Homo sapiens: one gene and its partners. The protein of the gene in region 1 purifies or fractionates together with the protein of each later gene. This does not show direct contact. Each region holds a gene or a part of one and is shown in the gene's direction. Other genes may lie near its edges. The genes, in order: MINK1, GALNT13, RIOK2, RAPGEF1, CHLSN, ALKBH5 and RCC2.

Region 1 (3,111 bases):
CCAGCCCCATCACCTCAGCGCCCCCCCGCCGCCCCCTCGGCACCCCTGTGCTCCCTTCACAGACCTCGCAGCAACTCCGCCTGGCAAATCTATCTGCAAAGGCGGGCAGAGCGGGGCACCCCAAAGCCTCCAGGGCCCCCTGCTCAGCCCCCTGGCCCGCCCAACGCCTCTAGGTAATAGAGTTGTCCCCCAACTCACTCTCACCTCTCACTTCTGCCACCCGCTTCCCTGGTGATGGCTCCCTCTGCAGTGCAGCTCAGCACCCCAGAGAAGGGAGCACCGTGCCTCCCTGACCCTGACTCTGCCCCCCCAACAGTAACCCCGACCTCAGGAGGAGCGACCCTGGCTGGGAACGCTCGGACAGCGTCCTTCCAGCCTCTCACGGGCACCTCCCCCAGGCTGGCTCACTGGAGCGGAACCGCGTGGGAGGTATGTGAGCCAGGGCTGGGCAGCCTGCTCTGGGCCTGGGGGCTTATCACCATGGACCCTGCCTTTGGTGGCTTTGGACTGGGGCACCCACACGGACAGGGAGGACCTGTGTGGGTATGGAACTTGGGGCTGAGTTCTGGGGCTCAGGGTGTGGGCTTGAGGCCATCCCTTGTTCAGGCATCAGTGACCTTCTTCCACCCTGCCGTCCAGTCTCCTCCAAACCGGACAGCTCCCCTGTGCTCTCCCCTGGGAATAAAGCCAAGCCCGACGACCACCGCTCACGGCCAGGCCGGCCCGCAGTGAGTCACCTGGTGGCAGGCATGGCCTGCCTCATCCTGGTTTGGGGCTTAGCCTCAGGGTGCTGGGTGTCAGGGGTGGGGTCTCCGCTGATCTACCGAGAAGGGCTGTGGGGATGGAGGGACTGGTGCTTCTCATGGTGCTAACCTTTCCTAACCTCTCTCCTAACCTCTCTCCTAACCTCTCTTCTGGCTCTTTCTTCCCCTGCGGCCCCTCCCAGAGCTATAAGCGAGCAATTGGTGAGGTTAGTGAGATGGGCCTGCTTGTGGGAGCCCCTCCTGTCGCCCTGCTGGGGTGTCCCGGCACCCTTTGTCTACCTCCACCCAGGCCCAGCTTCTCCCTGCCCCTCACGTGGCTCCTCCCTGCAGGACTTTGTGTTGCTGAAAGAGCGGACTCTGGACGAGGCCCCTCGGCCTCCCAAGAAGGCCATGGACTACTCGTCGTCCAGCGAGGAGGTGGAAAGCAGTGAGGACGACGAGGAGGAAGGCGAAGGCGGGCCAGCAGAGGGGAGCAGAGATACCCCTGGGGGCCGGTACGGCATCGGGAGTGGGGCCCTCCCACTCCAAGGCACAGGGAGGGAGGGGAAGTGGCAGTGGGGAAGAGGTGGGGCTTTGGGGCAAGTCTGAGGGAGAGCGGCTCCCTTCTCTAGAGAGTGGGGTGAGGGTGCAGGTTCCTGTCTCTCTCCCGCTGCCCTGTGTGTTGTGGGGTGGCCTCTTCAAGTGCCTGTCTGCCCCTGTGCCAGCCTGCCCTGTGTGCCATGCAGGGAAGCACCTCACGGTGGAGCAGGGGCTACACCGTGAGGGTGGAGCAGGTTGTGTTTTGAATAGAGACAAAAGCCTGGGCTCTGGCTGCCATCTGCTGCCTTTGGCACTTCTGTGGCCACGGGCAGGACCTGGAGGGGCCCCACCTTCCTCTCTCACAGCAGCGATGGGGATACAGACAGCGTCAGCACCATGGTGGTCCACGACGTCGAGGAGATCACCGGGACCCAGCCCCCATACGGGGGCGGCACCATGGTGGTCCAGCGCGTGAGTGAGCCTCTGCTCCCTCCCCTGTACCTGTGTGTGCCCTCCTCAGCCCCACGCCAACCCTGCCCTCTGTCCTGTAGACCCCTGAAGAGGAGCGGAACCTGCTGCATGCTGACAGCAATGGGTACACAAACCTGCCTGACGTGGTCCAGCCCAGCCACTCACCCACCGAGAACAGCAAAGGCCAAAGCCCACCCTCGAAGGATGGGAGTGGTGACGTAAGTGGGCCGGAGGCAGGTCCGCCGGGAGAGAAGAGCCCTGGCGATGGGCAGGAGGTCCCGGTGCTGGGTAACGGCAGAGGATGGGGCGGAGCGCTGGGAGCTGGACAGCGGGGGTGCCAGTTGGGGAGCTGGAGCCTGGGGAACAGCAGCAGGGGCAGGGCCGCAGCTGGACTTGCACTTGTTTGCCTGACTGCTGTCCCCCTACCACAGTACCAGTCTCGTGGGCTGGTAAAGGCCCCTGGCAAGAGCTCGTTCACGATGTTTGTGGATCTAGGGATCTACCAGCCTGGAGGCAGTGGGGACAGCATCCCCATCACAGGTGAGGACAGGAGGACAGACCTGCTGTGAGGCCAGGGTCCAGGGGCAGCCTGGAGGGGAGCACAGTGGTCTTGAGACGCAGCCTCACAAAGCATAGCCACAGGACCTCTCCCTTGGGCCCTAGCACCTGCCTGGGCACAGAGGCAAGGAAGAGCCTCTGAGACCCCTCCTTCCTGTCCCACAGGACAGGAAATGCTCAGAGTTGCCAGGGGACCTGGGCAAAGACTCAAAGCTAACAAGTGACAGAAATGGGACTTGAGCCAGACCTTTTGACTCCAAGTCCAGCACTCTATCCCCCTCTCCCATGCACCTCCTCTCCTCCTGTCTTTCTCCTCCTTTCTGCGTATTATGAGGTGCCAAGACCTGATATAGGGGATGGAGGTAAAAAGAGATGGGGTGAGAAGCTGCAGCCCCTCCTCCCACCTCCTCCTCCTTCTGGCAGCCCTAGTGGGTGGAGAGGGCACTCGGCTCGACCAGCTGCAGTACGACGTGAGGAAGGGTTCTGTGGTCAACGTGAATCCCACCAACACCCGGGCCCACAGTGAGACCCCTGAGATCCGGAAGTACAAGAAGCGATTCAACTCCGAGATCCTCTGTGCAGCCCTTTGGGGTAAGCCAGGGCAGGGACAGCTGAGGAGGCTCTGGCGTGGCTCTTGTGCTCCTGGTTAGGTGAGGGCCTGGCTGAGCCTCTGACCTGCCCAAGGGCTCCTGTTGCAGGGGTCAACCTGCTGGTGGGCACGGAGAACGGGCTGATGTTGCTGGACCGAAGTGGGCAGGGCAAGGTGTATGGACTCATTGGGCGGCGACGCTTCCAGCAG
Region 2 (3,500 bases), on another chromosome or scaffold:
CATATTCATGACTTGATGACATAATGCTTATAGCTTATTCCATTCTCTTCCTAGTTTCAAATAAAATTTGGACCTAGGAAAGATGCTAGCACTTGCTTTAGCCTTAGTTTACTGTGTTAATGTTTGTTGAAATGATTGGAAGATTAGGGATGACTTGTTCCTTCTTGGTAGTTAACTGCCATTTACTGACACTAAGATGGTGCCACTCTGTGTCCTGGGATTGGAAATGAATATTGGGCAATGACAAAAAGAGCTTGTCAGAACTAATTTCTCCATCTTCCCTCCAAAAAACACATCCCAACTTGTACGGGTCAGTTTGCTCCATTTTTACTTCTTTGCCTTGGCGAAAGTGAAGCAGGTTTGGTTAGTGCTCTTGTAAAACTGGTGGTTGGTTTTACATCCCAGGTTGCTTTAGATAGTGTCTATTTGGGCCATCAAAGAGGAAAAGAATACTGGTGGAGTGTGTGAAATGTGGCTAAATTGACCTAAGACATTAGTTTCATTTCTACCAAAGCAGGTTGTAAATCCAAATTACCTTGAGTTTATTTATTCATTGTAGTTACAGGTGTTCAGGTCCCACTGATACAGAGTCTCATTTAACTGGGATGGATCCACAGAATCTACCTTTATGCACATTTTCCTATGTGATTCTGAGGTGCAGTGACATTTCAAGCAACTAATCTGCTTGTAGTATATCACTTAACAGATTTATTTAACAAAACACAGCAATTACTATGCCCCAGAGTTGTTCTAAGTGCTTTGCAGATATTGATTCATTTAATCATAAAGACCTTCAAAAGTAGATTTTATTAGTATTCTTATTTTAGAGACAAGGAAAGTGAGTCACAGAAAGGTTAAGTAAGTTGGCCAGTGTAAGAAGATCAGTGGAAGGGCAAGGATGATGTTAATTTTGATAAAATAATTAAAACTACCTACGTGTGTGTGTGTGTGTGTGTGTGTGCATGTGTGTGTGTGTTCTGAGACAGAGTCTGCCTCTGTTACCCATGCTGGAGTGCAGTGGTGCAATTATAGTTCACTGTAGCCTTAAACCCCTTGGCGCAGCCTCCCAAGTAACTAGGACTACAGGCATGTGCTGCCATGTCAGGCTAATTTTTAATTTTTTTTTTTTTTGGTAGAGACAGAGTCTCACTATGTTGCCCAGGCTGGTCTTAAACTCCTGGCCTCAAGTAGTCCTCCCGCCTCAGCCTCCCAATGTACTGGGATTACAGGCATGAGCCACTGATCCTGGCCGTGCTTTGAGCCACAAAACTTGAAGTAGCAGAATTGAAAACAGAACACAGATTTCTATGTCTTTTCCCTATTTGAGTAAGTTTTGCCTTTGAAAGTGAAGGAAGAAAAGCTGATATTTCTCGAGTTGGAAAATTTTTAAAAAGTTTATATTTTAGAAGTTGTTGCACCAGATAAATAAATATAATTATGAATGGGATAGTAAACATGGAAAAATCAGAGTGGTTTTCCTCAAGTAGTGTCATCATTGACTTGGCCTCTAATTAGACCAAAACAATATTAATAATCAGTAATACATAATGTTGCAGACAAGAATATTTTTAAAAGATTTGGAAAATAAACAGCTGTTTGTTTCAATCCATAACAAAATAACCATATATACTTCAAATACGTAACTAAGATTTACATCTTTATACTAAATAAGAAACAATTTATTTTCCTGTAATGCTCCTCATAAGATCTTTAAGTTACATTAGGAAATATTCATATTTATGGAAGGATTGGGGAAATTCTACCTAAATTTATGGATTTTTTCTCAATAATTTTTGTAAGCTTTGTATAAGATGGAATATTTGTAATTTATAATCACTTGTGAAAACTGATGTATTGATCTTTAACAAAGTACATTTTCTCCTTTCTGTTATTTAATATTTTTGTTTAATACACTAAAATAATCTTGTAAAATGGCTTTTCTTTGGTGTTTTTTAAAATGAATTTTATTTTAGACCGATGTTTGATTAAATTATGTAAATTATTTGAATTCTAAACCCCCAATAATGAGTCATTCCACTTGTGTGGTTTAAAAAAGAGTTAAAAATCGGCATTTAGAAACAATGTGATTTCCAATTCAGTAAATGATTTAAGGGTTTATGGGGTTACTGACTATTCTACTTTCAAGACTCACTACCATCTTTTCTCTTTTTCTTATAGCAAATTTCACCAGGATTCCTGAGACTTATATTTCTTCGATTCTCTTGATCATTCAGTCTCAAATAGGATTATATATCACTTGTCCTGAAAAATATTAGAAACAGTCTGTCACTGAATATGGTGCAGATTTTATTCATATGTTATAGATTTTAAGCATACCTTTTGATTTTTTTCTTAAGGTAAATACTGTATTTATTATTTTTTAGTATTCTTTTTCTTTGCTCCATATCTTGTTCTTTGTTCTTCTTTCCATTCTTCTTCATGGTGCTTTTTGCTTTAAATTGTCTCTCTTTTATGACTTAATAAATCTTCATGTAGCCAGACTGAACTATGTATTGGTTTCCTTGATTCTGGTAAAACAAAACAAAACAAAACAAAAAACAAAAAAGGAAATTAAAAAAGGCTGTTCATTTAATCATTTAGTTTCTGAATAGGTAAGAGACACTATAGCTCTTGCATCTAGGTCATTTAACAGGTGGAAGGGGATGCTAAATTTGCATCTCATTACCTTTGTCTACTTTTAGAGTTGTGTGCTTGGGCCCTGTGGTCAGTTGGCAGGTGGCAGGCCATGGCTCCAAAGGAATGCCGTGTTATTTGAGGGGATGCCAATTTCACTTGCCACACGGTTCTCACATTACTTGGTCAGACTTTTTAAAAATAAAACAACCAATATATGGTTCATTATTTATGCTAGATTACTGACTTCACATCAAAAATCATTGTGATATTGATAGGCTGTGATAAATAATTTTAACAATTTATATTCTGTGGTACCCACTGTCAGACTTATGGATAGTATTTCCTCTATTTTGGTAACCTAGAGCAGACATTTTGTCAAAAATTTTTAAAAGACTTTTATTGTTGTGCACTAAAGTTGAGATGAATTGTAGGTAATTGGATGGTACAGCTGAATTAACACATTGAATTGCTAGTTATGAGACACTTCATTTGCTGTTGCAGACAACAATAGGCCCATTTTTGCTTCTACAATGCACAAATTCTTATTATCTATATAAAATGCTAATTCAAGTGGGATAACATGTATACATCATTTCCATTCCTTTTGTAAGGAAAACTAACTTCCACAAATGTAAAATATTTGCAAATATCTCAAATAATTTTGAACTTCAATTAATCTTTTTTTGCAAATGTTAATCAGTTTTCTCATTTTCCACAAACAGAACAGGATATAAGGCATTTCAAACATGAAATCAGTAGTATCAATTTTACCCTGTGTCCCTTAAGGTCTGTGCAGATGGGCAATTCACATTTATCTCAACAGAGATCCTTATTTGAATCATTCTGAAGAACATTATTACTAT
Region 3 (3,500 bases), on another chromosome or scaffold:
ACTTCTTAACTTCTAATAAACTTAGATGTATACCATTTTTTAAAATTTCCATCATGAGATAAAAATTTCTCAGAGGTAAAAAGCACATATATATATATATATATACATATATATATATATACATATACACATGCAGAAGAGCATGTAGGATAGAGATATATATATATGTGCTTTTTACCTCTGAGGAATAAATTTAAAAATATATATATAATATATATATTATATATATATTATATATATATAATATATATATATTTTATATATATATATTATATATATATATAAAATACTTTTAAGTTCTGGGGTACATGTGCAGAACGTGCAGGTTTGTTACATAGGTATACACATGCTATAGTGGTTTGCTGTACCCATCAACCCATCCCATCTACATTAGGTATTTCTCCTAATGCTATCCCTCCCCTAGCCCCCCACCCCCCGACAGGCCCCAGTGTGTGATGTTCCCCTTTCTGTGTCCACGTATTCTTACTGTTCAACTCCCACTTATGAGTGAGAAAATGTGGTGTTTGGTTTTCTGCTCTTGTGTTAGTTTTCTGAGAATGATGGTTTCCAGCTTCACCCATGTCCCTGCAAAAGGCATGAACTCATCCTTTTTTATGGCTGCATAGTATTCCATGGTGTATATGTGCCACATTTTCTTTATCCAGTCTATCATTCATATATATATATATATCCTCTACGATGCCTACATGTAGTACTTTCTCATTAAATACCTGCTTAATAAATATCTGGCATATCTGTAGTTTTTAAAGACAAATGTTTAGGTGTCATCAAGTATTTTAGCATTGACCAAATGTCATCAGTATGTCTAGCACTCACAGTTCCTACTCTTGAAATGGAAAGCCAATACAAATATCAATGATTAGATTTCAAATTGCAATTAAAAATATTTTCAAGAGACGGAAGTGATTATGTCTCAGAATTAGTTGGAGAACTGCATAGTCAGGAAAGCTTCAAGGAGAAGTTAATTTCGCAGGGTTTTGATAGACAAGGCTTTGTGTTGATTATGATTATATAATGATTCCTTTAATTTCAGGTTGAAATGGGCATGAAGAACCATGAAATTGTTCCCGGCAGTTTGATTGCTTCTATAGCCAGCCTTAAACATGGTGGCTGTAATAAAGTTTTAAGAGAATTAGTGAAACATAAACTCATAGCTTGGGAGCGTACCAAAAGTAAGTATTTTGAGGCACCATTTGTGATTTTTCAGGTAATTGGTTTCCACCAGAGCAAGTGTTCCAAAAGTCAAGAAGTAGAAGTTGCCAGACTAGTAAAGCATTAGACGAAGAACTGACAGAACACACTTCGGCCATATCCTATTAGTCAAAATAATCACAGGGCACACCCAGATCAAAGGAGGTGAAAAAAGAATAGTAGTAAGAACATGTAGGTACTGCAGAAGAGCATGTAGGTACTGCAGAAGAGCACGTAGAGTACTGCAGAAGAGCATGTAGAGTACTGCAGAAGAGCATGTAGAGTACTGCAGAAGAGCACGTAGGTACTGCAGAAGAGCACGTAGGTACTGCAGAAGAGCAGGTAGAGTACTGCAGAAGAGCAGGTAGAGTACTGCAGAAGAGCATGTAGAGTACAGAAGAGCACGTAGGTACTGCAGAAGAGCACATAGAGTACTGCAGAAGAGCATGTAGAGTACAGAAGAGCACGTAGGTACTGCAGAAGAGCACGTAGGTACTGCATAAGAGCAGGTAGAGTACTGCAGAAGAGCAGGTAGAGCACTGCAGAAGAGCATGTAGGTACTGCAGAAGAGCATGTAGGTACTGCAGAAGAGCAAGTAGGTACTGCAGAAAAGCATGTAGGTACTGTAGAAGAGCATGAAGAGCATGTAGGTACTGCAGAAGAGCATGTAGGTACTGTAGAAGAGCATGAAGAGCATGTAGGTACTGCAGAAGAGCATATAGGATAAAGCTATTGTGGCTACCATCTTTGGAAAATACAATCAGTAGTCATACCCTAGATCATTACTTCTGAAACCATCTGTGGTGAAGGATTAGTTTTTTCCAACCTATCACAGATCCTTACTTTTATAAAATACAAAAAAATAATTACTAGAAAAATGAAATGGATAACAGATATACAAAAACAGACATAAATTCTAGGTCAAATTGATATACAAATTGAACTTAAATTCCTCCTTTTATCTTGTCACAAACACTTACAGACCTGTCTGTAGGTCACATTTTGATTATCAGTACACTGGAGAAGAAATGCAAATTATAGGAAGAAATTGGAAGCTTGTGAGCCTGGGCAGTTTATCTTTTTCCAATGAAGACTTTATTGTTAAATCTTTCTTATGACTTGAACTTACGTGACTTGGTTGTACAATGTAACTGAAATATGGTCTTTATGCTTTGATTTTTGTCTAGCTGTCCAGGGCTATCGGTTGACAAATGCAGGATATGATTACCTAGCTTTGAAAACACTTTCTTCTAGGCAAGTAGTTGAGTCTGTTGGAAACCAGATGGGTGTTGGCAAAGAATCAGGTAAGTGCTAATAGTACTGTGCAAAGTATTTTCTTTGCTTTAGTTTATGTTTTCCCTTCAGAAACCTTTCCTCTTTTAATTTTCCCTTTTTTCTAACTAAACAGTAAGTTGGAAAGTTGATTGGAAGCAGTACAAATCAGAAGGTGTCCTTAATTAGTAGGTTATTATTTTCTCTGAACGTCTATCACTGAAAATTCATTTATACCAGGAATTAATTTTCTTCTAATAACTCCCAAGATATATCATTATTTATGTGCAAATATACCAGAATCCAAAATTCAAAACACTTCTGGTCCGAAGGTTTTGGATAAGGAGGGATACTCAATCTTTATTAGGAAAAATGACATTTTTGATACAAATAAAATTAGAGAAAGTTAGAATTGTTTTAACTGATTGGAATAAACGTGTAATAATGGTTGTTTTTGAAATTTTGTCTCTAGATATTTACATTGTTGCAAATGAAGAAGGACAACAATTTGCATTAAAGCTTCACAGACTAGGAAGAACCTCGTTTCGAAATTTGAAAAACAAACGCGATTATCATAAACATAGGCACAATGTGTCATGGCTATATTTATCTCGTCTCTCTGCCATGAAGGAATTTGCCTATATGAAGGTATTTATTTTATTTTGTAGTCATGCATTTTTTAGCCAAATAATACATGTGTCTCAAAGGCCTTAATGACAAGTGTGATTCTGTTGTCCCCACATCTCTCTAACCTTAGACTCAATTCCTACAGACAGACTCAATCTTAAATAACTCTGTTGATTATTTGGGCTCTTTTAAGTGATTTCCTTCTACGTTAAGGTATTTTAAATTGTTACTAATGCATAAGGGCAACACATTCTGTAATGCTGACAAGATGAAAGAGCCAAAAGTAATTAATGATGCTGTTACCTCACAAATATGTATGTGTGGATGTATATATATCTATTCAATATATGTAACTATACATATGTCTGTTTCTAATTGAAAACACCAGG
Region 4 (3,401 bases), on another chromosome or scaffold:
ACTGACTGCTCCCCATCCCCTGCACCAGGCACTATGACATGCGGAGGAACGACGACATTATAAACTTCTTCAATGACTTCAGTGACCACCTGGCTGAGGAGGCCCTATGGGAACTGTCTCTGAAAATTAAACCCAGGAACATAACAAGGAGAAAAACAGACCGGGAAGAGAAGACCTAGGAGCAGACGCCGGGATCCAGGAGAATGCTCGAGGGGCGCAGAGGGCAGCTCCCAGACCGGAGAGGACCTTGGACCTGTTAGGCGCATGGCAGGAGTCCCGGCCTCGGAGCCATGAGGCTGGCCAGCCCTCAGCGGGGCCGGGCGGGAGCTGGAGCCTGCCAGCCGCTTCCTGCCTCCTTCCTCTGTGGGAGCAGACCCGTGGGCCTCAGGGCAGCCAGCAGGCAGGTCTTGTTGCCAATTTACAAACCGGTGGTTTTCTGGTTTGGTTTTGTTTTCTGCTTTTACTTCCATCTCTCCCCTCTTGACCTTCCACCCACTCCCCTCCAGGGAGAGAGCAGCAGAGACCTCATCAGCAGACCAAGGAAGTGGTGGGTGCTCCCCCTCCCTAAGCTCCAGGGTCCCTGAATCTTCTGAAATCTCAAATGAGTGGAGGCCTCCTGGGGTGGCCTGTCCTGCAGGGGCCCTGGAATGGGGGCAAGCAGCTGGGTGGGCAGAATGCAGAGTAGACTCGGGGGAGGATCCTTTCACTTTCCGCTTCCCCTTCTGATGCATGGAGGATGGTGTGAGCTTTTCAGCAGGCCCGGAAAGGTACGCAGGTGACGCCTTAGCAGCCCCGCAGCTGGTGCTCTGCCCCGCGGTACTGGCGCCATCAGGGCCTCCCTTGCCCGCCTGAGAGCAGCAGCAGTCTCTGTCATCCCGTCGCCCCTTACCCCCCACCCCAGGCCACTGGGCCCCTCCCACACCACCTGGGGAGCTGAGAAGAGGAGGCTGGAGTAAGGGAGGACTTGATCATCCAAGAAATACTTTTTATTGCTGGGAGTCTTCTGAACCTCACCAAACTGAGGCCAGAGCTGAGCTCCTGGGGGAGTTAATTCAGAGGGGAGAGGCCAGCACCTCCCTCCTCCATCGCTCGCTGTGTGCCTTAAACTCCATCTCATGTCCCTCCCCATCCCCTGGCTTTCCCTCCCTCCTTGCCCCATCCTGGGCCAGCCAGCAGGGCTCCTCCTCTGGCTCTTCAGACCTTTCAGCCAGTGCTGTCAGTGCCCCTGGGAGGGAAGGGCATCCCTGAGGCACCCGAATGGTCCCTCAGGGTGCAGGGAGGCAGAAGCCTGGCCACAGAGGAGCCTCCTAAGGCAGCAGCTGCAGCAAGCGCACCCTCTCCCCACTCTCCCCACGCCAGAGCGGCTTCCAGAGCAGATGCTGTTTCCATCCTCCTCGTCAAAACCATTCTCGCTGCTGAGCTTGACAATCTGGGCAAGGCTTGTGGGGCGCTTGACAAACAGAATCTGCCCTGTGCCGCCTGGTTCCGTGGCCTCCAGCATGAGCCTGCAGGCAGGGCGCTGCGGGAACCCAGTTGTGCTGCCCCAGCCCATGCCTCCGGGTCTGCTGTGCATGAATGAGTGCTCACTTGTCCCGGGTTTAGGACGTGGTCAAGTGAACAGCAGGGTCTAACTGTGCTTACTTAGCCCAGTTCAAACAGAACAAAGGAAAAATATAGAAAGCAACATCTGTTGATCATTTAGGTTTTTTTTTAAACCACCATGTCACTTTGAGTCCTTCATGGGTTTTTGAACAGCATTTATCAAGAAGAAAATGTGGGCTTTTTCCCCTCTCCCGTGTTTTGTTTGTCCTGTAGATAGAGGGAGGAAAGCCGTGCAGTGGCAGGCGGGACCCCCTCTGGTGGCGGGACCCCCTCTTGCGGTGGTCTTGCGGGGCCAGCCGGGACCTGTCACTTTATTATTTAAGGAGTGTGTGTGTAGAGTCGCTGGCTTATTAACAGTATTGTGTGTGGGTTGGGTTTTTAGTTTGTTCCTTCTTTTTGAAGTCCCTTCATTTCAATCCTTGACTCTCTCTCCCCTTCCCTTGCCCAGCTCTGTTGAATGCTGCTGTGCGCGTGTGAGGGCCGCTCTGCACACAGGGCCCTTGGGTTGTGTGAACTGAAATTCTCCCTGTATTTGTGAGACTCGCAGGAGTCCCCATCTGTAGCACAGGCAATGCCAGTGCCATGCTGCAGCCTCAGAAACCAGGCCTCTCACTCCAGCAGCAGGCAGAACCGTGTCTGTGGTCGGGTGCTGTCCACAGCTCTGTCTGCCTTGTTCTTGGGCTTGAGCTGGATAGAGGTGGGGTCTCTTCACCTTCCCTGAATTCAGAACAGACCCTGTGCCTGGCCCCAGTGTGCCCAGGCAATTCCCCAGGCCCTCACTGGGAGCCCTTGGTGTTCTGAGCAGCAGGGCCCAGGCAGCACATGAGCAGTGCCCAGGGGCTCCCTGCGTGAGGACGGCAAGGTGCGATGTATGTCTAACTTATTGATGGCAGGCAGCCCCCTGTGCCCCCTAAGCCTGGCCCTGGTTATTGCTGAGCTCTGTGCTCAGTGCTGCGGCCTGGCCGTGGCTCGTCTGTTCCTTTGGGGGGCCCGGGCGGGTTGTGGGAATCAGTCTTCACAGACAGACGTGAGCCAGGCGGAGGACTCGTTCCTTGCAGAGGTCAGTCCTCACCTGCAGGTGTCGGGGTGTGGGGGGGCAAGGAGGGGCAGGCACACACCATGTCTGACCTGAACCCGATTCTGGGGAGCATCTTCCCGCTCCGGCCCCACGACCTCCACAGGGTTACATTGTAATATATATGCCCCAGCTAACCTGTCTGATGGTGGCATCTTCCTGCAGACATTTCAAACATGTAACTTTTATATGAAAAAAAATAAACACAGATGAAAGCTGCCCAATGCCATGTCCGCGCCCAGCTGCATGTGTGCAACTACAGTGACAGCCCAGCCTGCTCCATGCTGGCCTTGCCATCTCTTTTCTGAGACCCCTGTCGCAGGCGGGGCTCCTGGGAGGCTGGGGTCATTCAGCTCCACTCCCAGGCCCACTTGCTGCCATTGGGGTAGTCGTGGCTGAGTGAAATGGACGTCACCAGAACTTTCCCTCCTAGGCCTTGTGCCCTAGAAGCATTCAACTGGACAAAGAATTGCTCGTGCTCCAGAGGTCGGTTCATGCACAAGAGCCCCTCACCCCAGTGTCCTGATGAAAAGGGCATTCCTCGGGTGGGATTCGGGGGCACAGGCTCTAGAATTGCTCCTTCGGGGCCCGGAAGCACTGTCTTTATGGCGTGCCTTTTGCGGTGTGTCCTCTGCCGCCCAGGAGGCAGCACACAGAGGCTCGGGCCCAGCCCCAGTGAAGAACAGCAGAGCCTCTGCACTTACAAGGGACAGAGTGAGGAGGC
Region 5 (2,871 bases), on another chromosome or scaffold:
CTCACCCGCAGGACTCCACTCACCCGCAGGACTCCACTCACCCACAGGACTCCCCACCCACAGGACTCCCCACCTGCAGGACTCCACTCACCCACAGGACTCCACTCACCCACAGGGCTCCACTCACCCACAGGACTTCCCACCCACAGGACTCCACTCACCCAGAGGACTCCCCACCCACAGGACTCCCCACCCGCAGGACTCCACTAACCCACAGGACTCCCCACCCACAGGACTCCACTCACCCACAGGACTCCCCACCCACAGGACTCCACTCACCCACAGGACTCCACTCACCCACAGGACTCCCCACCCGCAGGACTCCCCACCCGCAGGACTCCCCACCCACAGGACTCCACTCACCCACAGGACTCCCCACCCACAGGACTCCACTCACCCACAGGACTCCCCACCCACAGGGCTCCACACCCACAGGACTCCCTACCCACAGGACTCCCCACCCACAGGACTCCACTCACCCGCAGGACTCCACTCACCCACAGGACTCCCCACCCACAGGACTCCACTAACCCACAGGACTCCCCACCCGCAGGACTCCCCACCCGCAGGACTCCACTCACCCACAGGACTCCACTCACCCACAGGACTCCCCACCCGCAGGACTCCCCACCGGCAGGACCCCCCACCCGCAGGACTCCACTCACCCACAGGACTCCCCACCCACAGGGCTCCACTCACCCACAGGACTCCCCACCCACAGGATTCCACTCACCCACAGGACTCCACTCACCCGCAGGACTCCACTCACCCACAGGACTCCCCACCCACAGGACTCCACTCACCCACAGGAATCCCCACCCACAGGACTCCACTCACCCACAGGACTCCCCACCCACAGGACTCCACTCACCCACAGGACTCCCCACCCACAGGGCTCCACACCCACAGGACTCCACTCACCCACATGGCAGTGGGGTCAGGCAAGCTGGGCAGCGCTCACAACAGGCACAGGGCCCTCCCCCGTGCTGAGCCTACAGTCTTCAGACCTGGGCTTGCACACTGATGGAGGCTTCTGGGCTCGGCTGCCCTGCCTGGCCCTGGAAACACGTATCTGGGAGGAGGTCTCTGGAGTAAACCCTGCCTGGCCCTGCCCTACCCACAGCGCCAGCTTCGCTCCATCCGCAGCTGCCTGATGTCCACAGGCCCTAGTGCAGGAGCGGGACGGGGGCGGGGTGGTTGTGGCCCTGGGGAGCGGCCCCTCTAGCAGCCGGGAGCTGCTCGTCCCCAGGCCCACTGGCCCCTTGTTGTGAGGGCCTGGGACTCAGGGTATTGTTCCTTACAGTCTTCCCATTTTCATGTAGAAAATACATCATCAATTACATCGCTCCCTTTCCTCCCAGAGAAACTCACTTCATCCTTCCCCCCCTGTAAAATCCGTGTGACCCATGGGGTGGGGGAGCCCACGGGGACTTGGGGTCAGTGGTGAGCCCCGGGGTGGCCAAGGTAAGAGTGGCGTCCACATGCTTCCTGGTCAGGCGGCAGCAGGGCGTGGGGTTGCGGCTCCTCGCCTCGGGCAGGGGAGGGGCTCCAAAAACCCTCTTCACATGAGGCCTTGGTGTGTAGTACCTGGTGGGGCTCCCTCTCCTAAGATGAGGCGTCCCCGATCTCTCAGGGCAGACAGCTGCCCGGGAGTCTTTTGCCCAGCACCCTGAGATGTTTGTCTTTCTTTCCCTAGATGGGCCCAAAAGCACAAGAACTGGAGGTTTCAGAAGACGAGGCAGACGTGGCTCCTGCTGCACATGTATGACAGTGACAAGGTGTGTGCACGGCGGGGCAGGCACGTCTCCTGGGGGCTGAGGTCTGTGCACGGCGGGGCAGGCACGTCCCCCCGGGGGCTGAGGTGTGTGCACGGCGGGGCAGGCACGTCTCCCGGGGGCTGAGGTGTGTGCACGGCGGGGCAGGCACGTCTCCCGGGGGCTGAGGTCTGTGCACGGCGGGGCAGGCACGTCTCCTGGGGGCTGAGGTCTGTGCACGGCGGGGCAGGCACGTCTCCTGTGCACACTGGGGCCCTGACAGCAGAAGCCACAGTCTGAAGGGGCCGCCCTCAGGGCCCCACTGCAGGGCAGGTCTCCCGGTGCCTTTGTTCTAAGAGATGAGCAGCGTTGCCTCCTCCAGGAGCCCTGCCGCCGGCCTTCAGGGCAGAAACCAACACGGGGTAACCTTAGGGAGGCCACCTGCACGTGTGCGTGTGACGTGTGTCTACACGTGCGTGTGTGCATGACGTGTGTCTACACGTGTGTGCGCGTGATGTGTGTCTACACATGTACGTGTGGGCAGCTGCCCTTTTCAGGGGCAGGATGTGAGATAGAGTTTCACAGGATGAAACGAGACAGAATTCTGAACTAAACCCGGCTGCTGGGCGGCGGGCTGGAGCTGCCCATGTCCTGTGAGGCTGGAGGAGCCCACGGTTCTGCTGAGCTGCATCCGGTGGGCAGTGCCTCCTGCCTCGCTGGCTCTCCTGCGCCCACGTTACTAGAGGCCAGGCTTTGCGTGCGCGCTGGGGGCAGGGGGCGGTTTTCTCCTGCCGTGCCTGTGTTTGCAGACTCTCAGAGCGGGGCAGGCCCACCAGCCCCACTCACAGCCCTGGGACATTCCAGGCATAGCCTGCAGCCACTTGCTTTCATTATTTTGTTGTTTTTGTTTTTTTGTGGGCGTTTTTTGAGACAGGGCCCCGCCCAGGCTGGAGTGCAGTGACACGACCACAGTTCACTGCAGCCTCGACCTCCTGGGCTCAAGCCACTCTCCCTCCTCAGAGTTAGAGGACATACACATTGCAAGCCCTATTGCAAGCCGATTGTAAGCCCTATTGCAAGCTCCGGTAATCGCGACACTGGGGCAGGCACAAGGGTG
Region 6 (3,500 bases), about 13 Mb from region 1:
ACAGAATAGATAAGGAGTGGAGGACTTGATACACCGGCCTAAGACAGCAAAAGCTTCACGCTGTGCAGAGAAATGTTAAGCGCGCTGGGGAGCCGTGGAGGCATGTGAGCAGTGGGGTGAGGGATTTGCATGTGAGAGATTGTAGGAAGCGAAGCTCAATAGCTTACTTGGTCATTAGATCCACAGAGTTCGAGGAGTCAGGAGACCTTCCATGAGAGCAGAGCAATCTGAATGTGAGGCTGAGTGGATGGATGAGCAGTGGAAGGAAGTGGAGGTCTCATTCTGGACCTCGTTCCTCAGCAGTGGGGTGAGGGGTGGCTAGCTCTTAGTTTCTCTGACCAGGGCTTGGTGTTGCTCCTTTCTCCATGATTTGTGTCTCCTGTGGTTAGATTTAGCTTACATTTGTTCCCTGGTTCAGTAAGTCTGTGTCCACGTGCATACACCCTGCCCTTTTGGCAGCCTGACTGTTCTGATGTGTCTGTGGCCTGCCCAAGGAATATGGGTACAATGGGATCACCAGGAAGGTGACAAACTTGGGCTTCTGCCCTGGCTCTGCCACTCCTCTCCAAATGCAGTCTTATCTGCACCTGTAAATTGGGCAGTTGTGGTTAAACTTGTGAATGCTAGGTGGTCTTCTAAACTCTTCCTGGCTGGGTGCGGTGGCTCGCACTTGTAATCCCAGCACTTTGGGAAGCCGAGGTGGGCGGATTGCCTGAGCGCGGGAGTTTGAGACCACCCTGGGCAACATGGTGAAACCCCATCTCTACTAAAATACAAAAAATTAGCCGGGCGTGGTAGCATGCATCTGTAGTCCCAGCTACTTGGGAGAATCGCTTGAGCATGGGAGGCAGAGGTTGCAGTGAGCCAAGATTGCACCACTGCACTCCAGCTTGGGCTACAGGGTGAGACTCCATCTTAGATAGATAGATAGATAGATAGATAGATAGATAGATAGATAGGATAGATAAGATAGATAGATAGATAGATAGATAGATAGATAGATAGATAGATGATAGATAGATTGATTGATTGATTTAAAAAACCAGGTGTGGTGGCATATACCTATAGTCCGAGCTACTCGCGAGCCTGAGGCAGGAGGATTGCTTGAGCCCAGGAGGTCAAGGCTGCAGTGAGCTGTAATCCCACCCGTGCACTCCAGGCTGGGTGATAGACCTTGTTTCAAAGAAAGTAATTAATTGGCCGGGTGCGGTGGTTCACGCCTGTAATTCCAGCACTTTGGGAGGCTGAGGCGGGCGGATCGTGAGGTCAGGAGATCGAGACCATCCTGGCTAACACGGTGAAACCCCGTCTCTACTAAAAATACAAAAAAAATCAGCCGGGCATGGTGGCAGGCGCCTGTCGTTGCAGCTACTTGGAGGCTGAGGCAGGAGAATGGCATGAACCCAGGAGGCGGAGGTTGCAGTGAGCCGAGATCGCACCACAGCACCCCAACCTGGGCGACAGAGCGAGACTCCGACTCAAAACAAAAAACAAAAAACAAAAAAAAACAGAAGTCTGATGTTGGCAGGGGGCTGGTGGAAGATGGGTGGGGAGAGTCCCGTGAGGGGAGTGGGTACTACTGCAGGAGAGCCAGCAAGGTACAGACCTGAGCTTTGTGGGAGTCTGATTCTCAAAGGTGCTGGAGCTTAGACCTTAGCTCTAGGGACCCAGGTTACTAAATAGGCAAGAGGGTGCTTGGACAGGCCCACAATACTGGTCTCTGCCTCGCTTTGTTGGAAAGCCAAGCTTTTAGCACAAGGATGCCTGGTAAAGGTGGTGCCAGACGTTGGAGAGTAGTTGGTAGCTGGCTGGGGACTGCCCTCGCTCCAGAGTCATCGTGGCCTGAGTGCGGTCTGGTTTACCATCTTCCCAGAAATGGTGGTGCTGCCACCTGCATGCACAGTGTTCTCTTGCACTGAGGAGGGCCCACCTGCACTTTATTTTTTAATTAAAAAAAAAAAATTAGGGCCGGGCACGATGGCTCACGCCTGTAATTCCAGCACTTCGGGAGGCTGAGGCAGGCGGATCATGAGGTCAAGAGATCAAGACCATCCTGGCCAACATGGTGAAACCCTGTCCCTACTAAAAATACAAAAATTAGCTGGGCATGGTGGCGTGCACCTGTAGTCCCAGCTACTCATGAGGCTGAGGCAGGAGAATTGCCTGAACCTGGGAGGTGGAGGTGCAGTGAACCAAGATCGTGCCACTGCACTCCAGCCTGGAGACAGAGCAAGATTGTCTTTTAAAAAAAAAAAAAAAAAAAAGAGTTTAAATAGGGACAAGGTCTTACTTTGTTGCCCAGGTTGGTCTGAAACTCCTGGCTTTTAAGTAATCCTTCTACCTTGGCCTCCCAAAGTGCTGGGATTACAGGTGTGAGCCACTGTGCCTGGCCCCACCTGTGCTTTAGAGGCCATCACAGAGTAGTAGGTAGTAGCTTTGTGACTCAAGCTAGTGATTTGCTCTGGGATTTAGCTTTGCTCTCCAGTCCCTACAGGGAGAATAATTCACCCCAGCAGCTTCTCTGGAGGACCTAGGATAGGATCAACTCCCTCCCTTCCCTTCGGTTCACACTTTAGTGCTACAGCCATCCTTTGTTGTGACCTCCCTTGTCCCTGCTTTGTCCTGACACGGTAGGTGGCCGCTCTGGGTATCACGGTCAACCTCACATGCCCGAGGTCACATGCCCGAGGTGCTTTGCTCTGACCTTTGAATACTGACTCATCTGTAAGGCAGGTCTTCATTCCTGTTGCCACCTGAGGAGGCCTGGGTCCAGACCTTACTGCTAGAACTGAGCCTCCTGAATCCAGATTTGTGACTCTCTGCTAAACCCTGAGGACCTGGCCTACGCCATGAGAGTTGGTTGCCTTTTAACAGGGGCATGTTCTGAAGTTAAGCTACTGGTGGGCACTGGGCTTGGAGTCAAGCTCTAGCCTGGCATCCTGCAGCTTGGTGAATTTTTGGAAGTGTAGGGAGGGCAGGAGCTTCTCCAGCTGTTATGAGATGTACTTATAACAGTCCCAGGGGATGTGTCAAGAGCTCTCATCTTGGTGGCTCTGCTTTTCTCCTACCATCCATCATTCACCCGAAGAAACAACTCCAGAGTGCCCCCACTAGGGCTTCACTGGGGCTTTTGGGGCACACAGGGGCCTTCCTTCCCTGAACATGGGCTCCCTGGCACCTATAGAGTCTTAGCTTTATGGGTACCAGAGGAGGGACTTTCTTCAATGAGGCCCTTAGAGTCCTTTAAGTCAAGTATAAAGGCTAACATTTTATTTAGTCTGATTTCTGCCACCTGGACCTCTCAACTTGATGACACGAAGCCTGGTAAAGAAAAGGTCATTGGGCCAGGCGTGGTGGCTCACGCCTTTAATTTCAGCACTTTGGGAAGCCAGGACGGGCAGATCACCTGAGGTCGGGAGTTCAAGACCAGCCTGACCAACATGGAGAAACCCCATCTCTACTAAAAATACAAAAGTAGCCAGGCGTTGGGGTGCATGCCT
Region 7 (3,500 bases), on another chromosome or scaffold:
AATGCAGTGGTGGGATCTCAACTCACTGCAACCTCTGTCTTCCTGTTTCAAGCTATTCTCCTGCCTCAGCCTCCTGAGTAGCTGGGATTAGAGGCACCTGCCACCATTCCTGGCTAATTTTGTATTTTTAGTAGAGATGGGGTTTCACCATGTTGGCCAGGCTGGTCTCAAACTCCTGACCTCGTGATCCACCTGCCTCGGCCTCCCAAAGTGCTGGGATTATAGGTGTGAGCCACCGCGCCCGGCTGTTAGTGTATCTTTTAATTTTAATGGCCTTCCTGTGGTTCTTCTGTCTGAGAATGCCTAGGAGTCTCTTTGTTCTATGCTTTGTTGAAAAAGCCTGGGCTAGGATTCCAGAGATCAAGTTGGTCCTCCCCACTGAGTGGTCTCAGCTCACCACCTCCTTCCCTTGGAATCTTCTTGCCGATGAAGAATGCCCAGGGAATTGGGCTAGGACTAGGGTAGGAGATTTCAGTTTGTGCAAGTCCAAAAACTGATTTGTTTTGTCTGATGTAGTCAGGGGAAATAAAGTTGGCTCTTGTTTAGGGCCTTATAGGCCAAGTTTTTTAGTAAGTTGTAGATTCCCATGGTTTAGACATGAAACATCAAAGAACTGAATTGGCATGTCAGAAGATGGGAAAACGAGACTGAAGAAGATAAATCTTAAACACTTGAAGTGTCTCTGAGTTCATTTCATCAGTGACCAGGTACAGGTTACCTCTGTACCTGTGGGTGAGGGAAGTCTAAAGAAAAATCCAGGCCGGGCGCAGTGGTTCATGTTTGTAATCAGAGGACTTTGGGAGGCCAAGGTGGGCAGATCATTTGAGACCAGCCTGAGCAACATGGTGAGACCCCCATCTCTACAAAAAAACCACAAAAATCAGCTGGGCATGGTGGTGCACACCCAAGTCCTAGCGACTTGGGAGGCTGAGGTAGGAGAATCGCTTGAGCCCAGGAGGTGGAGGTTGTGGTGAGCCGTGATCGTGCCATTGCATTCCAGCCTAGGTAACAGAGCACGAGACCCTCTCGAGGGGGGGAAAAGAAACGAAAAATCCAGGAACAGGTAGGCCTTTTCTGTTCTTTCTGCAATTGAATCTGTTTTTTTTTTGTTGTGTTTTTTTTTTTGTTTCGTTTTGTTTTTTTTTTTTGAGATGGAGTCTCATTCCGTCACCCAGGCTGGAGTGCAGTGACGCTATCTCGGCTCACTGCAGCCTCCGCCTCCCAGGTTCAAGAGATTCTCCTGTCTCAGCCTCCTGAGTAGCTGGGATTACAGGTGCACACCACTGTGCCCAGCTAATTTTTTTGTATTTTAGTAGAGATGGGTTTCACCATGTTGCCCAGGCTGGTCTTGAATTCCTGAGTTCAGGCAATCCACCTGCCTCAGCCTCCCAACGTGCTAGGATTACAGGCATGAGCCACTGCATCTGGCCGAATCTCTGTTGTAGTGGGAATCAAATGATTGCCCAACTCTCAGGAGACATAGCCCTGTTGCTTCTGATTAAGGAAAGGGTTAAGACTTGTAACTTAAATAAATAAACAGAACAAAAAAGGATTGGAAAATGGAGTCCCTGGCAGAGAAAATAGCAAACTGGGCTTATTGAATGCATGCCATTTTGCTACACTTGCTCCTGTTGCCTCCTCCCCCACTGCTGGAGGCGGGAGGTAGAGGATCTTTCTGCTGGAGGCAGGCAAAGGATATTTCTTTGGTTTTTGGAGACAGGGTTTCACCATGTTGGCCAGGCTGGTCTCAAACTCCTGACCTCAAGTGATCCACCCACCTTGGCCTCCCAAAGTGTTGGGATTAGATGTGAACCACCGTGCCCGGCTGGTAGGGGATCTTGAATGTTGCTGTTCCTTTGCCCTTAGCATTTGCACCAGGTTGTCTGCACAGAAACGATGACCCCTCTTGTTGCCTGTTGGAAGTCTGTTTGTTCCAACCCTGTGTTTTCTTTCCTTGCAGCTGGTCCTGGACTCCCAGAAGCGAGTCTTCTCCTGGGGCTTTGGTGGCTATGGCCGGCTGGGCCACGCAGAGCAGAAGGATGAGATGGTCCCCCGCCTGGTGAAGCTGTTTGACTTCCCTGGGCGTGGGGCTTCCCAGATCTATGCTGGTTACACCTGCTCCTTTGCTGTCAGTGAAGTGGGTTAGTGATTTCTGCCCCCTGGCTTATCAGTGCTCTGGTGCGGAACCGTGTAGCCATTGTCCTGTCCCTAGACCACGAACCCCAATTCTCTTTACCTCCCAGTGTTCTTTATTTTTTTGAGACAGGAACTCGTTGTGTTGTCCAGGCCGGTGTCGAACTCCTGGGCTCAAGCAGTCCTACCACCACAGCGTCCTGAGTAGCTAGGACTGCACAGGCACGCCACCACGCCTGGCTCCAGTTATCTTTTAGACAGAACACTTGTTTGCCATCCCGTCCTCTTTTCACCCTGATAATACTGAAGATGAGACTCAGCTCTCGATGTCTGGTCACGCTGGGAACATGTTTTGTCTTCCCTTAGGTGGTCTGTTTTTCTGGGGGGCCACCAACACCTCCCGTGAATCTACCATGTACCCAAAAGCAGTGCAGGACCTCTGCGGCTGGAGAATCCGGAGCCTGGCTTGTGGGTAGGTGGCAGCATCTCCTGTGGGTATGAGGTCTCTTCCTTTCATGGGGGTGTCAGACACACCCATGGGGTGCCCCTCCCTGATGGGGCTCTGTTTCTGCTGCCTGTTGGGCTGTCCTCAGCAGGCCATCTGACACACTGAATCCCAGAGTCCGGGGGTACAGGAGGGGAGAGGGCCCATTTGCTGCTAGAACAGATGGCTGTTCCCTGTCTTGTGGGAAGAAAGTCATTTTGAAGGTTTCTGTTCAAAGAAATAAACAAGCAGAGCTTGATGTATTCCTACGCTGCAGGTTGAAAATTATACGTAGTTGGAAACGTAGCAGGACTTGAGTTGCTGTGACACTGGGAAGACGACATTGTCTTGGCAGCAGTGGTTTGTAGTTCATTTCAGGACACCTGTTGAGTTAGCTAGCACTTCTTGCTGAGGAGTTGGATTTATCAGCTGGCAGGTGTGGGTGGAACAGTATGAGGGGCCTCTGTCGGCGTGGCTTTAATCTGTTGAAGGCTCTAGCCCTGCCCAAATCATTATGCATGAAGGCTGCTCCCTCTGGAACAGGCTTTCACTTTATCCTGATCTGGTCTCCTCTTCCCAAAGCGACCTCCCACTGAGAGAGAGCTGTGCAGGATGCACAGCAAGGTCCCCTGCCTTTGGCCCCTAGGCCTGTCTAAGGGCTTTGTTGTTTTGTTGAAGCGTTGAGTGGCCTGCACGGAACAATCTTAGGATTGAGGAGAAACCTGTTGGCCCTGTTATTGTGTTTGCTACTTGGAATGAGTACGCCAAGGGAAAAGTGGCAGCTCACACTCATGCCCTTGAGCCATAGCTGCGTGGGTGCAGGTCTGGGGCTGCTGGCCCTGCAGTGACAGCCTGCCTGTTTGCAGGAAGAGCAGCATCATTG

The links.
Region 2: the proteins of MINK1 (region 1) and GALNT13 purify together in Homo sapiens (affinity purification with mass spectrometry; one large-scale study listed by BioGRID and IntAct). This does not show direct contact.
Region 3: the proteins of MINK1 (region 1) and RIOK2 purify together in Homo sapiens (affinity purification with mass spectrometry; one large-scale study listed by BioGRID and IntAct). This does not show direct contact.
Region 4: the proteins of MINK1 (region 1) and RAPGEF1 purify together in Homo sapiens (affinity purification with mass spectrometry; one large-scale study listed by BioGRID and IntAct). This does not show direct contact.
Region 5: the proteins of MINK1 (region 1) and CHLSN purify together in Homo sapiens (affinity purification with mass spectrometry, with the first as the bait; one study listed by BioGRID). This does not show direct contact.
Region 6: the proteins of MINK1 (region 1) and ALKBH5 purify together in Homo sapiens (affinity purification with mass spectrometry; one large-scale study listed by BioGRID and IntAct). This does not show direct contact.
Region 7: the proteins of MINK1 (region 1) and RCC2 purify together in Homo sapiens (affinity purification with mass spectrometry, with the first as the bait; one study listed by BioGRID). This does not show direct contact.

The regions. Positions count from the first base shown.
Region 1 is NC_000017.11:4,892,340-4,895,450, forward strand, and holds part of MINK1 (misshapen-like kinase 1), read left to right. Parts: intron 1-62; coding exon 63-173; intron 174-316; coding exon 317-429; intron 430-639; coding exon 640-728; intron 729-946; coding exon of another isoform or gene 947-970; intron 971-1,094; coding exon 1,095-1,258; intron 1,259-1,648; coding exon 1,649-1,754; intron 1,755-1,834; coding exon 1,835-1,972; intron 1,973-2,185; coding exon 2,186-2,294; intron 2,295-2,735; coding exon 2,736-2,903; intron 2,904-2,996; coding exon of another isoform or gene 2,997-3,010; coding exon 3,011-3,111. UniProt on the Homo sapiens protein: Serine/threonine kinase which acts as a negative regulator of Ras-related Rap2-mediated signal transduction to control neuronal structure and AMPA receptor trafficking.
Region 2 is NC_000002.12:153,878,422-153,881,921, forward strand, and holds part of GALNT13 (polypeptide N-acetylgalactosaminyltransferase 13), read left to right. Parts: intron 1-3,500. UniProt on the Homo sapiens protein: Catalyzes the initial reaction in O-linked oligosaccharide biosynthesis, the transfer of an N-acetyl-D-galactosamine (GalNAc) residue from UDP-GalNAc to a serine or threonine residue on the protein receptor.
Region 3 is NC_000005.10:97,176,748-97,180,247, reverse strand, and holds part of RIOK2 (serine/threonine-protein kinase RIO2), read left to right. Parts: intron 1-1,054; coding exon 1,055-1,193; intron 1,194-2,399; coding exon 2,400-2,516; intron 2,517-2,956; coding exon 2,957-3,132; intron 3,133-3,500. UniProt on the Homo sapiens protein: Serine/threonine-protein kinase involved in the final steps of cytoplasmic maturation of the 40S ribosomal subunit. Involved in export of the 40S pre-ribosome particles (pre-40S) from the nucleus to the cytoplasm.
Region 4 is NC_000009.12:131,576,275-131,579,675, reverse strand, and holds the end of RAPGEF1 (rap guanine nucleotide exchange factor 1), read left to right. Parts: intron 1-28; coding exon 29-179; 3' UTR 180-2,901; downstream 2,902-3,401. UniProt on the Homo sapiens protein: Guanine nucleotide-releasing protein that binds to SH3 domain of CRK and GRB2/ASH. Transduces signals from CRK to activate RAS. Involved in cell branching and adhesion mediated by BCAR1-CRK-RAPGEF1 signaling and activation of RAP1.
Region 5 is NC_000007.14:999,377-1,002,247, reverse strand, and holds part of CHLSN (protein cholesin), read left to right. Parts: intron 1-1,696; coding exon 1,697-1,778; coding exon of another isoform or gene 1,779-1,782; intron 1,783-2,871. UniProt on the Homo sapiens protein: Hormone secreted from the intestine in response to cholesterol, where it acts to inhibit cholesterol synthesis in the liver and VLDL secretion,leading to a reduction in circulating cholesterol levels. Acts through binding to its receptor, GPR146.
Region 6 is NC_000017.11:18,200,828-18,204,327, forward strand, and holds part of ALKBH5 (RNA demethylase ALKBH5), read left to right. Parts: intron 1-3,500.
Region 7 is NC_000001.11:17,412,178-17,415,677, reverse strand, and holds part of RCC2 (protein RCC2), read left to right. Parts: intron 1-1,960; coding exon 1,961-2,141; intron 2,142-2,499; coding exon 2,500-2,605; intron 2,606-3,483; coding exon 3,484-3,500. UniProt on the Homo sapiens protein: Multifunctional protein that may affect its functions by regulating the activity of small GTPases, such as RAC1 and RALA. Required for normal progress through the cell cycle, both during interphase and during mitosis.